3 separate regions of the Homo sapiens genome follow, and regions 1 and 2 are each linked to region 3. Evidence: fine-mapped expression QTL. A gene starts in region 3. Each other region holds a variant in brackets. All regions are shown on one strand. Distances are between the middles of the regions.

Region 1 (4,172 bases), 46 kb before region 3:
AGCACCCCATGTGGATTTTGGGGGGTCCCTTTTGTGTCTCCCCCGCCATTCAAGGACTCCTCTCTTTCTTCACCAAGAAGCACAGAATTCTGCTGGGCCTTTGCTTGTTTATTTTGTTTCCCGACTCTTCTCTTGGGGTTCAGAGCCGCTGAGGGGTGGGGTGAGTCCAGGCAAGGAGTGAAGGTCAGGGGGAGGTGCGGACCACATAAACAGCGTCACTGCACGCATCACCACAGGCGGCACGATGAACGAGGACCACATATGCCAAGCACGGCACAAAAGGAGGCCACGTCAGTCACAGACACAGACACCACAGCAAAGGTGGGGAAGCGGAGACCACTGGCCTTCCGTGTGCAAAGGATTCTGGGAAGATGGGTGGAGTTTGCATATTTAAAGACAGCTGTCAGAGGCAGGAAACTGGGGAGGGGGTCCCTGGGGGAACCGAGGGGTCCTGGAAGTGGGAGGGGCTCCCAAGGTATTGAATGAGGTTGAGGGGAGCTGGTGAAGGGAAATCCTTGTGGGGCTAGGTGTTGGGTGGCATTTGAAGATGTGGATCTTCAGAGGGATGGAAGATCCATGGGAAGGGGCTCAACAGTAGGGGTTTCTTGAGGATTTGGAAAATTATGATGGGAAATAGGTGTGCTGGAGAGATTTGGGACCAAAAATAGGGTTTTCCAGGAACTTCAGGGCTCCAGGAAGGGATTCTGCAATGGGTTGCCTGGTATTTGGGCACTTCCAGGAAGGAAAACGCCCTCTGGGGAAACCAGGGGCGGAGGTCTTCAGGAATGTGGAGGTTCTAAAACAGAAGTAGATCCTGAAGTGACCACGAGTGGGGTTCTAAAAGGACTTGGGGATTCCACATGTGAGAACCGGATTTAGGGCCAGGAGGAGTCAGGTTTCTCAAGGTACTCGGGGATCTTGAGGAATGAGAGGTGGAATCTTGGAGAACCGGGAGATGGGTTCTCAAGGGATTTGGAGACTCCAAAAGTGAGAAATGGATTCAGGGCCCAGAGAAGGGTTGCCCAGGGATTTTGGGGTTCTCAGAGTGGGGTATCAGTCGGAGAAGAGGCTGGCGAAAGACTTCCTCAGGCTGCGGATGGTCTCAGCTTTCACCTCGTCCTGGCTAAGGCTGGGCCTGGGCGGGGCTGGCTCTGGAAGGTTGAAGGCATTGGTCAGAGACTGGGATTTGCTAGAGAGAGACAAGGTGGAGGCGTGGGAGGAAGGGGGAAGAGGAAGGGGAGGAAGGGGAGAGAAACACAACGTTACCCCAGGCCCAGCCCCAGCCCTGCCCCTCTGATCCTGGGGCTGTGCCTGTGACCTCCCCACCTGCCACCATGGGCCTGGACCCTAACAGGTTCTCAAGGCTGGGAGCACTCAGGTGGAGTGGGTGGAGTCCTGGGCCAGGGAGGCGAGATCTGGGACAGGCTGGGAGGACTTGGATCCAGGGTGAAGTGTGGGATTCGTGGCAAGAGTCCTGGGCAGAACCTTCTCTGTGAATTCTTGGCTAGTTTGATACAAAGGGGAAGATGAGCAGGGA[A/G]GTTTCCAATCTAAGGGTGAGGTGTCTAGGAGGGCATAGAAAGGGCTTGGACCAAGGACAGGCTGTTGGGCAAGTCAGCCTAAGGCAGAGCAGCTGGGTGGGGCAGGGAGGACGTCTGAGCTGGGATGGGAGTTGGAATGGACCAGAAAAGGCAGATGGGTGATGATTCGCGGGGAGACTGAGATGGGCCAGAAGGATGTGAAGGAGGAGGAAAAGTATGAGGATGGAGTGGGAAGAGCCAGATGATAGGAGGACTAGGACTCGGGCCAGGAGTTTTAGGGATGGGTTGGTGGCGGGGGGGCGAGTTTGGCAGGGAAGGCTCTGGGCTGGGCAGGAAGTTGCAGAGGGTGGGTCAGCCAGGTGCCTGGGAGGCCCTGGAGGAGGAAACTTTCCCAGGGCCTTTGAGGAGGAATTCGAACTGAGTGCAGTTTCTCTGGGATTCTGGCACCAAATTCCTGGGGTGGGGGTGCGGAGCCTCTGGTGGGCCGGGAGGAGCGAAAGCTTGGGGGAAGGGCTTGGCTCAGGCTGGAGAGAGTTCGTGGGACCCCTGCATAGGACCTGGGTCTGAGGAGCAAGGGAGCTAGGGCTGCTCTACTGGGGCAGCGGCCCGCTTTGTGAGCAGCAAGGCGAAGGCTGCTGTAGGGGTCCCCTTACTTGAGCTGGGGGTGCGGAGGTCCCCCTGCAGCGGCGGTGGCGGGTGGCGGCACGTCCTGGCTGGGTTTCTGGGCCAGCTGTGGTTTGGGACGTCCAGCGGGGCCCGGGCCGCTGGGCCGAGGCTGCTGCGTGGTGGGTGGCCCAGTGCGGGGCACGGGACCCGCCTGGCTGGCCTGGCGTGTGGGGCCGGCTGGGCCTGGGGGTTTCTGGGGCGGGCCCTGGCGCTGCTGCCCGCCCGGTGGGGCCCCAGAGGCCTTTGGCGGAGCCGGGCCAGAGACGGATGTCTGACGGGTAGCCTGTGGGGGGCCCGCCTGGCGCTGGGGAGACGGAGAGGCGGGCGGGCGGGCTGCTGGAGGCGCCCCGGGGCCTCCCGCCACTGGCCGGGATTGGCGGCCTTGACCCTGGGTCGGCGGCGCGGCCTGGGACGCGGGCTGCTGGGGCGCTGAGGTGGGACTTGGAAGGCGCTGGGGCAGGGGGCTGCCAGCTGGGGGTCCAAGGCCTGAAAGGTGCTGCTGGCCCTGCGGGGGCGGGCGCTGCTGCAATGGGGGTCCCTGGCGCTGGGGGCCTGGACCCGGCTGTGGAGGGCCGCCTGGGGGACAGAGGGAGAGAAAGAGCACACGTGAGAGTGAGCGGGTAAGAGATGGCGGGCTGAGGGAGGGGACTGCGACCGCCAGCCTCTCGCTTACCCTGTGGTGGGGGTCGCTGCTGAGCCGGGGGCCCTGCGGGCTGCTGGGAGGTCTGGCGGCCCAAGGGCAGGGCCCCTGGGGACGGAGTCTGCGGCAGAGGAATGGAGCAGGAGAGGTTAAAAATAGTTACCAGCCAGTGGAGCATCAGCCAGTGATGACACAGGTTCCCTGTGCGCTGGGTGTTGCCCCACTTGTGGCTGAGCTGAGGGTACTCTGGGTTGTGGGGTGGGGGACCTGTTCCCAGGGGCGGGGCAGGGAGGTGCTCAGGGAAGTCAGGGCAGCAGCTGCTTATCAATGTTTTAAACAATTGGCAATCGCAGCCACATGTGTGCAAAGGTGATGCTGTGAGCCTACAGATTATCAGCTTCATGGCACAGCATGACCCAGGGCCGGCCTCCCCACACTAGCTCAAGCCACTAGCTCAGCGCCAGGGGCCTGACCTGGCCATGGGAGCCCCTGCCAGGGGAGGCATCCCGCTGTCGCTGCCGGGGCAGGGCCTGAGCCATCTTGTTGACCACGAGCTCTACGATGAGCTGTTTGTCTTCATCCTGGTGGTCACCAATGAGCGGCATGGAGGAACCCACCACCTGGGGGAAGGAAAGGATCCGTGAGGGGAGAGGCAGGCCTCGCACCTGAGGCGGCAGTAACACCGTGCTTTCAGTTGGCCAAGGGCATGGCCGCCGCTGAGCCCCAGTGTCTGAGGCACTGATTGTGCACGGTGAGGAAGGCTTGTCTGTTCCAAGGTACCTTACAGCTTAGAAGGTGCTTCAGAGCAGGGCTCAGCAAATTAGGGCCCATGGGCCCAACCTGGCCGACCACCTGGTTCTGTATGACCCAGAGCTAAGGATGGGTCTTTAAATTTTGTAACAGTTGAAAAAAATCGAAAGATTTTATAACATGCGAAAATGGCATGAAATTTAAATTTCAATGTCCATAAACAAAGTTTTATTGGAACACAGCCACACTTATTTTTTTAACATATCGTCTATGGCTGCTTTTGCAGAGTTGAGTAGTTACGGCAGAGGCTACGTGGCCTACAAAGCCTAAAATATGTACCGTCTGCTCCTTTACAGAAAATGTTTGCCGATCCCTGCTTCACGGTTTTCTAGGTGCTTTGTCCTTTCCAAAATGCTTTGCTGTCGGTCCAGTTCGCAGAATACTTTAAAGGTTACTAAGTGCCTCGCCATTCACCAAGATGTCTCGATTCGCAGAGCACTAAACAATCTAATAAGGGTTTTGCTAGTCACCAGGGACGTGCAAGTTCAGTCTAGTGTTCTGCCATTGCAAGGGATGGC
Region 2 (4,172 bases), 21 kb before region 3:
AGCTTTGAGCTGGCAGGGTAAAGAATCAGTGAATTTGAAGACAGGTCAGGTGAGATGATCCAATCTGAGGAACAGGAAGAAGAAAAGTAAACAAAATGAACACAGTCCTAGAGGTCTGTGGAACACCATGAAGCATATGAACACCCACATAATGGAAGTCCCAAAAGGAGAGAGAAAAGAGAGAAAAAAAGGTGCAAGAAAGACTATTTGAAGGAATAATGGCTAAAAATCCCCCCAATTTGATTTAAAGCATTAATCTATGCATTCAAGAAGTGCACTGAACTCCAACTAAGATAAATTCAAAGAGATAGGCACCCAGACACATCATAAACTTATAAAAGCTAAAGACAGAGAGAATCTTGAAAGTAAGAGAGAAGTAACTCATCATATACAAGGAATCCTCAATAGGATTAGCAGCTAATTTCTCATTAGAAATCTTGAAGTCAGAGGGCAGTAGGACAACATATTCAAAGTACTGAAAGAAAAAGACTGCCAAACAAGAATTCTACATCCAGCAAAATTATCTTTCAAAAATGAAGGAGAAATTAAGACATTCACAGATAAACAAAAACTGAGATAGTTCATCACTAACAAACTTCTACAAAAAATGCTAAACGGAGTCCTTCAGGGTGAAATAAAATGATACTAGCTAGTAATGTAAATCTACATAAAGAAATAAATAGCACCTGTAAAGTTAACTACATAGGTAAATATAAAAGACAGTATAAATGCATTTTTTTGCGTGTAACACTTTTTTACTCCTGATTTAAAAGACAACTGCATAAAGCAATAACTATAACTATGTTCATGGGCACACAATGTGTAAAGATGTAATTTGTTTGACAATAATAGCACAAAGGAGGGATGAAGGAATAAAGTTATATAGAGGCAATTTCTTTGTATTACTGAGCTTAATTTGGTATTAATTCTAATTGGAGTAATATAAATAATGATGTTAATTGTAATACCCAAGGAAACAACTAAGAAAAAAAAAAAACAGGCTAAGTGCAGTGGCTCATGCCTGTAATCACAACACTTTGGGAGGCCAAGGTGGGTAACTTGAGCTCAGGAGTTTGAGACCAGCATGGGCAACATGGCAAGGTCCTGTCTCTACAAAAAAATTAAAAATTGGCCAGGTGCGGTGGCACACGCCTGTAATCCCAGTACTTTGGGAAGCCAAGGTGGGCAGATCACAAGGTCAGGAGTTCGAGACCAGCCTGGCCAACATGGTGAAACCCCGCCTCAATTAAAATACAAAAAAATTAGCTGGGTGTGGTGGCAGGCACCTGTAGTCCCAGCTACTAAGAAGGCTGAGGCAGGAGAATTGCTTGAACCCAGGAGGTGGAGGTTGCAGTGAGCCGAGATCGTGCCACTGCACTCCAGCCTGGGTGACAGAGTGAGACTTTGTCTCAAAATAAATAAATAAATAAATAAATAAAAAATAAAAAACTAAAAATTAGCTGAGCATGATAGCACATGCCTGTGGTCCCAGCTATTCAGGAGGCTGAGGCAGGAGGGTAGCTTGAGCCCAGGAGGTTGAGGCTGCAATGAGCCATGTTCCTACCATGGCACTCTGGCCTGGGTGACAGAGCAAGACCCTGTATCAAAAAAAAATAAAAATTTTTTAAATTAAAAAAATGAATAAAAGACATAGGGAAGAAATAACAGAAAAATTAAAAATGGTACACTAGAAAATATCTGTTTAACTTAAAAGAAGGCATTACTAGAGGAATACAGGAACAAAAAATAAGATATAGAAAACAAATAGCAAAATTGCAAACATAAACCCTACCTTATCAGGAATTACAATAACATAAGTTAATTAAACACTGCGATTAACCCTTTTCCTGTTTAGGAAAAAAAAACGTGCAGCTTGCTGCCTGTGCTCACTAGATTTTATATAAACATGCTCTTTGAGGCTGAAGCAAAGCTAACTGATTTTCAATGTCAAAACAAAATATAAAAACTATTCTTGGAGTTATTTCTAAGCTGAACTAACATCAGAATCATCTGAATCATCAGAATCATCTGAATCATCAGAACCATCTATTTTGGAAAAATCAGATTCATCAAATGATTCTTCATCCAACGACTGTTCAAGAACGATGTTAACATCATTTGTAGGGATGTTACATTTTCTAGGATTTGACATTTTCAATGATTGAGAATTACTATATTTTGTAAGTGGAAATACCACTCCTAAAAACAGAATGCTATAAATAGAATGATGTCTTTTGTTTCCAAAGTCGATATACTAGAGTGATGTGAAAATAATAATAAAAATGAGACAGTTTGTGGCAAAGTTATCTC[A/G]GGGTAAACACTGCAGCCGCAAGTGCCATCAGAGAGTGTTCTCAGCACAAACGGTAAAGGGTTAATAGGCACAGTGGATGAAAAACGTGACTTAATTATATGCTATCTGTAAGAGGCACATTTTAGATTCAAAGACCCAAATAAGTTGAAAGTAAATGGATGGAAAAAGATTTACCATGCAAACAATAGCCAAAAGAGAGCTGGAATAGCTATACTAATATGAGGTAAAATAGAATTTAAAACAGCAATTGTTACTTGAGATAAAGAAAAATATTTTATAAGCATAAATGGTCAATCCATCAAGAAGATTTAACAATAATAAGTATATGTGCACCTAACAACACAGCACAAAATATATGAAATAAAAACAGGCAGAATTGGAGACAGAAATAGACAATTCAACAATTATAGCTGAAGACTTCAATATCTCATTTAAAGAAATGGGTAAAACAACTAGACAGGGAACCAAAAAGGAAGTTTTTTTTTTTTTTGGAGACGTGGTCTCACTCAGACTGGAGTGCAGTGGTGCAATCTCAGCTCACTGCAACCTCCACTTTCTGGGCTCAAGTGATCCTCCCACTTCAGCCTCCTGAGTAGCTGGGACTATAGGCGTGTGCCACCATGTGGCTTTTTGTGTGTGCATGTGTATTTTTTGCAGAGTTGGGGTTTTGCCATGTAGCCCAGGATGGTCTTGAACTCCTGCACTCAAGCAATCCACCCGCCTCAGACTCCCAAGGTGCTGGAATTAGAGGTGTGAGCTACTGTGCATGGCCAATAAGGAAGATTTGAAAAATGCTATAAACCAATTAGACCTCATAAACATCTATAGAACACTTCACCCTACAATGGCAGAATACACATTCTTCTTCAGTGCACATGGAACATTCTTCAGGACAGACTATATGTTAAGCCAGAAAACAAATCTCAGTAAATTGAAAAGGACTGAAATTATACAAAATATGTTCTCTGACCACAATGGAATGAAATTAGACATCAAAAACAGAAGAAAATTTGAAAAATTTACAAATATGTGGAAAGTAACACACTCCTAAATAACCAATAGGTCAAAGAAGAAATCACAAGTGAAATTAGAAGATACTTTGAGATGAATGAAAATGAACACACAACATATCAAAATGTAAGGGATGCAGTTAAAGTGGTGCTTAAAGGAGAATTCATAGTTGTAACTGCCTATATCTAAAAAGAAGAAAGATATCAAAATCAGTAACCTAATCTTCCATTTTTTTCTAGGAAATTAGAAAGAAAAGAGCAAACTAAGTCCAAAGCAAGCACAAGGAAAAACATAATAAGAGTAGAAATAAATGACATAAAGAATTTTAAAAATAGAGAACTAATAAAACAAAAATTTGGTTCTTTGAAAAGATCAATAAAATTGATAAACCTTTAGACTAAGAATAAAAAAGGGCAGAAAATTCTAATTACTAAAATCAGGAATGAAAGAGTGGACATACTACTGACCTTACAGAAATAAAAAGTATTATAAGAGAGTATAAGAGAGTACTGTGAACAATTATGTGCCAGTAAGTTAGAAAACCTAGATGAAATGGACAAATTCCTAGAAAGACACAAACTACAAAAACTGACTCAGTAAGAAATGGAAAATCTCAATAGACCTATAACAAGTGAAGAGATTGATTTAGGAATAAGTAAAACTTCCTACAAAGACATACCCAGGACCAGATGTCTTCACTGGTGAATTCTACTAAACATTTAAAAAGAATTAATACCGACCAGGCATGGTGGCTCACACCTGTAATCCTAGCATTTTGGTAGGCCAAAGCAGGAGGATCGCTTGAGCCCAGGGGTTCAAGACCAGCCTGAGCAACACAGCAAGACCCTGT
Region 3 (4,172 bases):
GGAGGGGAAATGGGAGTGCAGAAAGTTGATCTATGGGAGCTCGATTCTTCATCCATAGGAGAAAAGGCTTTTGTGAAGAAGGCACACAATCAGGTACACAGCAGGTGCTCCATAAATACTCCAAGGAGTGATTAAAAGAAAAGGTCTTTGGAAAGAGTGACTGGAATGGTACACACAGCAAGTGCCAGATATCTGAGCACTGTATTAACTGGAGGCACAGGCCTTTATGGAGAGGTCTAAGGTTGGGTCATGCAGAAAGTGCTCAATACATGCAGACTGAAGCCACTGGAGGAAAGGGTATTGCAGAAAGGGTTTGAGGGTGGGGTATACAGCAGGCACCAGTCAATGCATGCTTGCTGAATACACTGGAGGAAAGAACTTTTAGAGAAGGCTCACACTGCAGGCAGTTGATAAATGCTAGATGGATCCACCAAAGGAAAGGTCTTTGAAGAAGTAGCTGGAGAACGGGGGATACAAGAGGCACTCAATAAATGTTTTCTAGATCCACTGTAGGGAAAGGTCTTTGAGGAGACGGTCTGAAGATGAGTCACACAAAGAAGGTTCAAAACTGCTCATGGAACTCACTGGAGGAAAATGATTTGTTTGAGAAGGGGTTTGGGGGTGCGGCACGTATCAGGCACTTAACAAATGCTTCCTAGATCCTTTGGAGAAAAGGCCCTCAGAGAGAGGGCTTGGAGTTGGGGCACAGAGAAGGCATCCAATCAAAACTCACAGGATCCATGAAAGGCAAAGCTTTTGGAGAGAAGCTGGGGTGGGATACACAGCAGGTACTCAATGTTTACTAAATAGTTTAAAAGGGCTTTAAGGACGGAGCTGGGGTGGGACACATAGCATAGACTGGACACATGCTCACAAGACCCATTAGAGAAGGCCTCAGGGCAAGGGTTGAGGAGAACAGGACAGTATCAGGCTCTCAAAGAATGCTCACAAACCTCATTGAAATCAAAGGCCTTGGGGAAGGGCTCTTGGATGAGGCATACTGCAGGTACTAGATAAGTGCTCACAAGATCCATTAGAGGACAAGGCCTATGGGGCAAGGGTTGGGGAGGGTAGGAAGGACACGTTCGGTTTTCGAAGGCTCATAGGATATATTGAAGCCAAAGACTTTTGGGGGAGGGGTAGTAGGGAACAGGTACGCAGCAGGTGCCTGATAATTGCTCCCTGGATCCATCAAGGTTTAAGGGGCGGAGGGGGGCGACAAGGGCGGGGCACAGAGGAAGCATCCAGCTTAATAATTTAAAGGAAAAAGATTTAGGTGAGAGGGCCAGGTGTCAGGCACACAAGCGGCGCTCGATAATTGCTCATTCGCAGAAGAACGATCTGGGGACCCAGGCCCACGGGAGACGTCCGCGGCAGTGGCTTACCAGTCGGTGTGCGGCTCGTCGATGACCAGCAGCACCCTGGAGGCGGCTCCCCCGCGGCCTGCGCCCCCAGAGCCGCCGCCCACCTGCTCGCTGAAGGTGGCAGCTGCCGCCGCCGTGGTCTGCTTGACCGCGTTGGACAGCGACGAGAAGAAGCCACCGCCCCCCGAGGACCCGGGGCTAGGGGCGGCCGGAGAGGCCGCTGGGGCGACCCCGGAGGACCTCTCGGCAGTGGCGGTCCCGGGACCGGGCGTGGCTCCGGGGCTGTGGGCACCGGGCGGCGGTGGGGGCGGCTGCGGACGCTGCAGGTCTGTCATGTACCCATTTGGCAGATTGGCCATAAAGTTGCTGTCCGACAGGCGGCGCCGCAGGTAGTTCATGGCTGCGACTTGGGGCAGGGGGTCCTAGGGGTGGTCTGGCCAGGAGCCGCGGGGGCGGACTGCGCGGTGCCCAGGAGCACAGCTGCGCTCTCAGGCACGACACGACTCCTCCGCTGCCCACCGCAGACTGAGGCAGCGCTGAGTCGCCGGCGCCGCAGCGCAGATGGTCGCGCCCGTGCCCCCCTATCTCGCGCCTCGCGTGGTGCGGTCCGGCTGGGCCGGCGGCGGCGCGGACGCGACCAAGGTGGCCGGGAAGGGGAGTTTGCGGGGGACCGGCGAGTGACGTCAGCGCGCCTTCAGTGCTGAGGCGGCGGTGGCGCGCGCCGCCAGGCGGGGGCGAAGGCACTGTCCGCGGTGCTGAAGCTGGCAGTGCGCACGCGCCTCGCCGCATCCTGTTTCCCCTCCCCCTCTCTGATAGGGGATGCGCAATTTGGGGAATGGGGGTTGGGTGCTTGTCCAGTGGGTCGGGGTCGGTCGTCAGGTAGGCACCCCCACCCCGCCTCATCCTGGTCCTAAAACCCACTTGCACTCATACGCAGGGCCCTCTGCAGATACTCGGTTTGTAGTGTTGATATTCAACTCAGAAGGCATTTTTTGGGGGGAGGGGGGCACTGGAAGCACACTCAGAGACACGAAAGTAGAGAAATAACCCCCTCACAGAGGGGGGTGAGGTCACACGCAGTGCCCGCGGGGAGATTAGTCTCCCACATCCACACAGGCTCAGCTAGGCAGAGAGCGGGGGCGTCACAGACAGCATCAGACAAGCGGAGGTGGACACTTGGGTGGTGTACACACCCTTGCCCAAGGTGGCAAGGGGGGCCTGGAGGCACACAAGAAATGACACACATATAAACACACACAAAAGTGAGGAAACATACGAGGGCATGTACAGACAGAACACACGCCAATCTAGGTATACATACAGACATACAAGTCCAGAGTAACACACATGGGCATGTTACATACATGCATGCATACACCCATACCCCCACACACACAGGTAACACACTGACACACAGAGACCCAGGGAAACTCATATGAGCATACACTTGCAGACAAAACACATTCCCACCGATGATCATGGAGAAACCTAGATCTGCAACACAGACATTCTCTGCAGCCCTAGCCCTGGTGCGTGTCCACCCCCACACCAGAACACACTTGGTATATACGCCACCATCCCTTTGCTCTGGACACCGCCAAAACTCACGATAACTACCTGATGTCATCAGTGCCCATGGCTGTCTCCCCCTGCACCCAAGAACTTTCCACAGAGGCAGGCCCATCCCATGGTGCACACACAGTAGGTACCAAATAATGTTTGCATATGAGCAAATGAGGTAGTCCAAGCAGAGGTGGGATATGGGAACCTGTCAAATCTTTATGATTCTGACTACAATAAAAGCACTAATTCATAATCATTTGTTCACTGATTGTACCCAACTCTTAACTAAGCTGTTTACATGCATCATTTCATCCAACCCTCACAACAATCCAGTGGGGTGGATAATATAATGTCTATTTTACAGATGAGGGAATACAAGAACTCCAGTTAATTCCCAAAGGGTCATGTTCACTTTATGATCAACACATTTTTTTAAGAATGTGCCAGGAAGAGGAAACATCCAGTGCCAATGTGGCTGGAACAAGCTGAAGGGGGTTGTGGTAGCAGGGGCCAGATTGGGTAGGACCTTGACCATAGTGAGCAGTGATGGTGGACTAGGAGAGGTGGCAGAAGATAGGCAAGAAGTAAGTAGATATGGAGTCTCTTTTGCCTGCAGAATTTTCAGGTGACTCATCCACTTATTCATTTGTTCATCCTTTATTCATTAAATCATTGGCTGGTTTAAACAAGGCAGTAATAGTGTGGGGTCTGGAGACACAGTGCCTGGGTTCAAGTGGGGCCTCCACCATACACTTGGGAAAGTGACTTAATCTTTCTGAGATTTGGTTTCCTCATCTGTAAAAAGGATACATCTCTAACCCACCTCTAAGGAGAGGGGTAGGAAGGGGGCAACCTCTGTACCTTTGCATGTGTTGTAACTTCTGCCAGGAATGTCCTCTCCTTCTCTCTCGAGGGCTGCCTTTGGCCACTGTCTGCAGGAACCCCTCACCCCCAGGTCTCAGATTCTATCCCCTCCTCCCCTAGGCTTCCACAGTACCCAAGTCAAACACTTCCCAAACCATCCTCTACTCCCTCCTCCAACCCAGCCAGCTTCAGTCCCACCTCCAGGCCTTTGATTTGGCCACTCTTTTCTCCTCCCTTCAGGATTCCTTCTCTGGCATTCCAAATCCTAGTGTTACCCAGATGGGGATCTCCCCGCAAATCAGATATTTTCCAATGTCTTGAAGTATGTGCTCCCTGGTTTTTTGCCCAGTAACGGAAGCAAACAAGCTGTGCAGGGCGCGG

Direction of the effects. Alleles are on the strand shown, and positions count from the first base shown. SD is a standard deviation of normalised expression in the study named. Not every link is listed here.
As copies of G replace A in region 1, the expression in fibroblasts of the gene that starts at base 1,891 in region 3 goes down (small effect, 0.12 SD a copy in GTEx).

The links. PIP is the estimated chance that this variant, and not a neighbour inherited with it, causes the effect.
Region 1: its variant is the best candidate, but not a certain one, in a credible set for the expression of SYN1 in fibroblasts (GTEx, PIP 0.64).
Region 2: its variant is the best candidate, but not a certain one, in a credible set for the expression of SYN1 in whole blood (TOPMed, PIP 0.60).

Annotation. Positions count from the first base shown.
Region 1 is chrX:47,571,811-47,575,982 of GRCh38, forward strand. ARAF (A-Raf proto-oncogene, serine/threonine kinase) reads left to right here. Exons shown (of 16, transcript NM_001654.5): 16 at 1-98. SYN1 (synapsin I) reads right to left here. Exons shown (of 13, transcript NM_006950.3): 10 at 3,318-3,464; 11 at 2,878-2,965; 12 at 2,192-2,780; 13 at 91-1,189. The coding sequence ends at 1,054. Among named protein-coding and RNA genes, the nearest start is that of TIMP1, 8.5 kb to the right of the region's middle. RefSeq lists enhancers at 2,990-3,497, 3,498-4,004, 4,097-4,172. The variant A/G (reference allele first, on the strand shown) is at 1,538.
Region 2 is chrX:47,597,416-47,601,587 of GRCh38, forward strand. All of the region lies in intron 5 of SYN1 (synapsin I), which reads right to left. Among named protein-coding and RNA genes, the nearest start is that of MIR4769, 12 kb to the left of the region's middle. The variant A/G (reference allele first, on the strand shown) is at 2,311.
Region 3 is chrX:47,617,967-47,622,138 of GRCh38, forward strand. It overlaps SYN1 (synapsin I), which reads right to left and starts at 1,891. Exons shown (of 13, transcript NM_006950.3): 1 at 1,386-1,891. The coding sequence starts at 1,762. RefSeq lists silencers at 1,904-2,198, 1,905-2,114.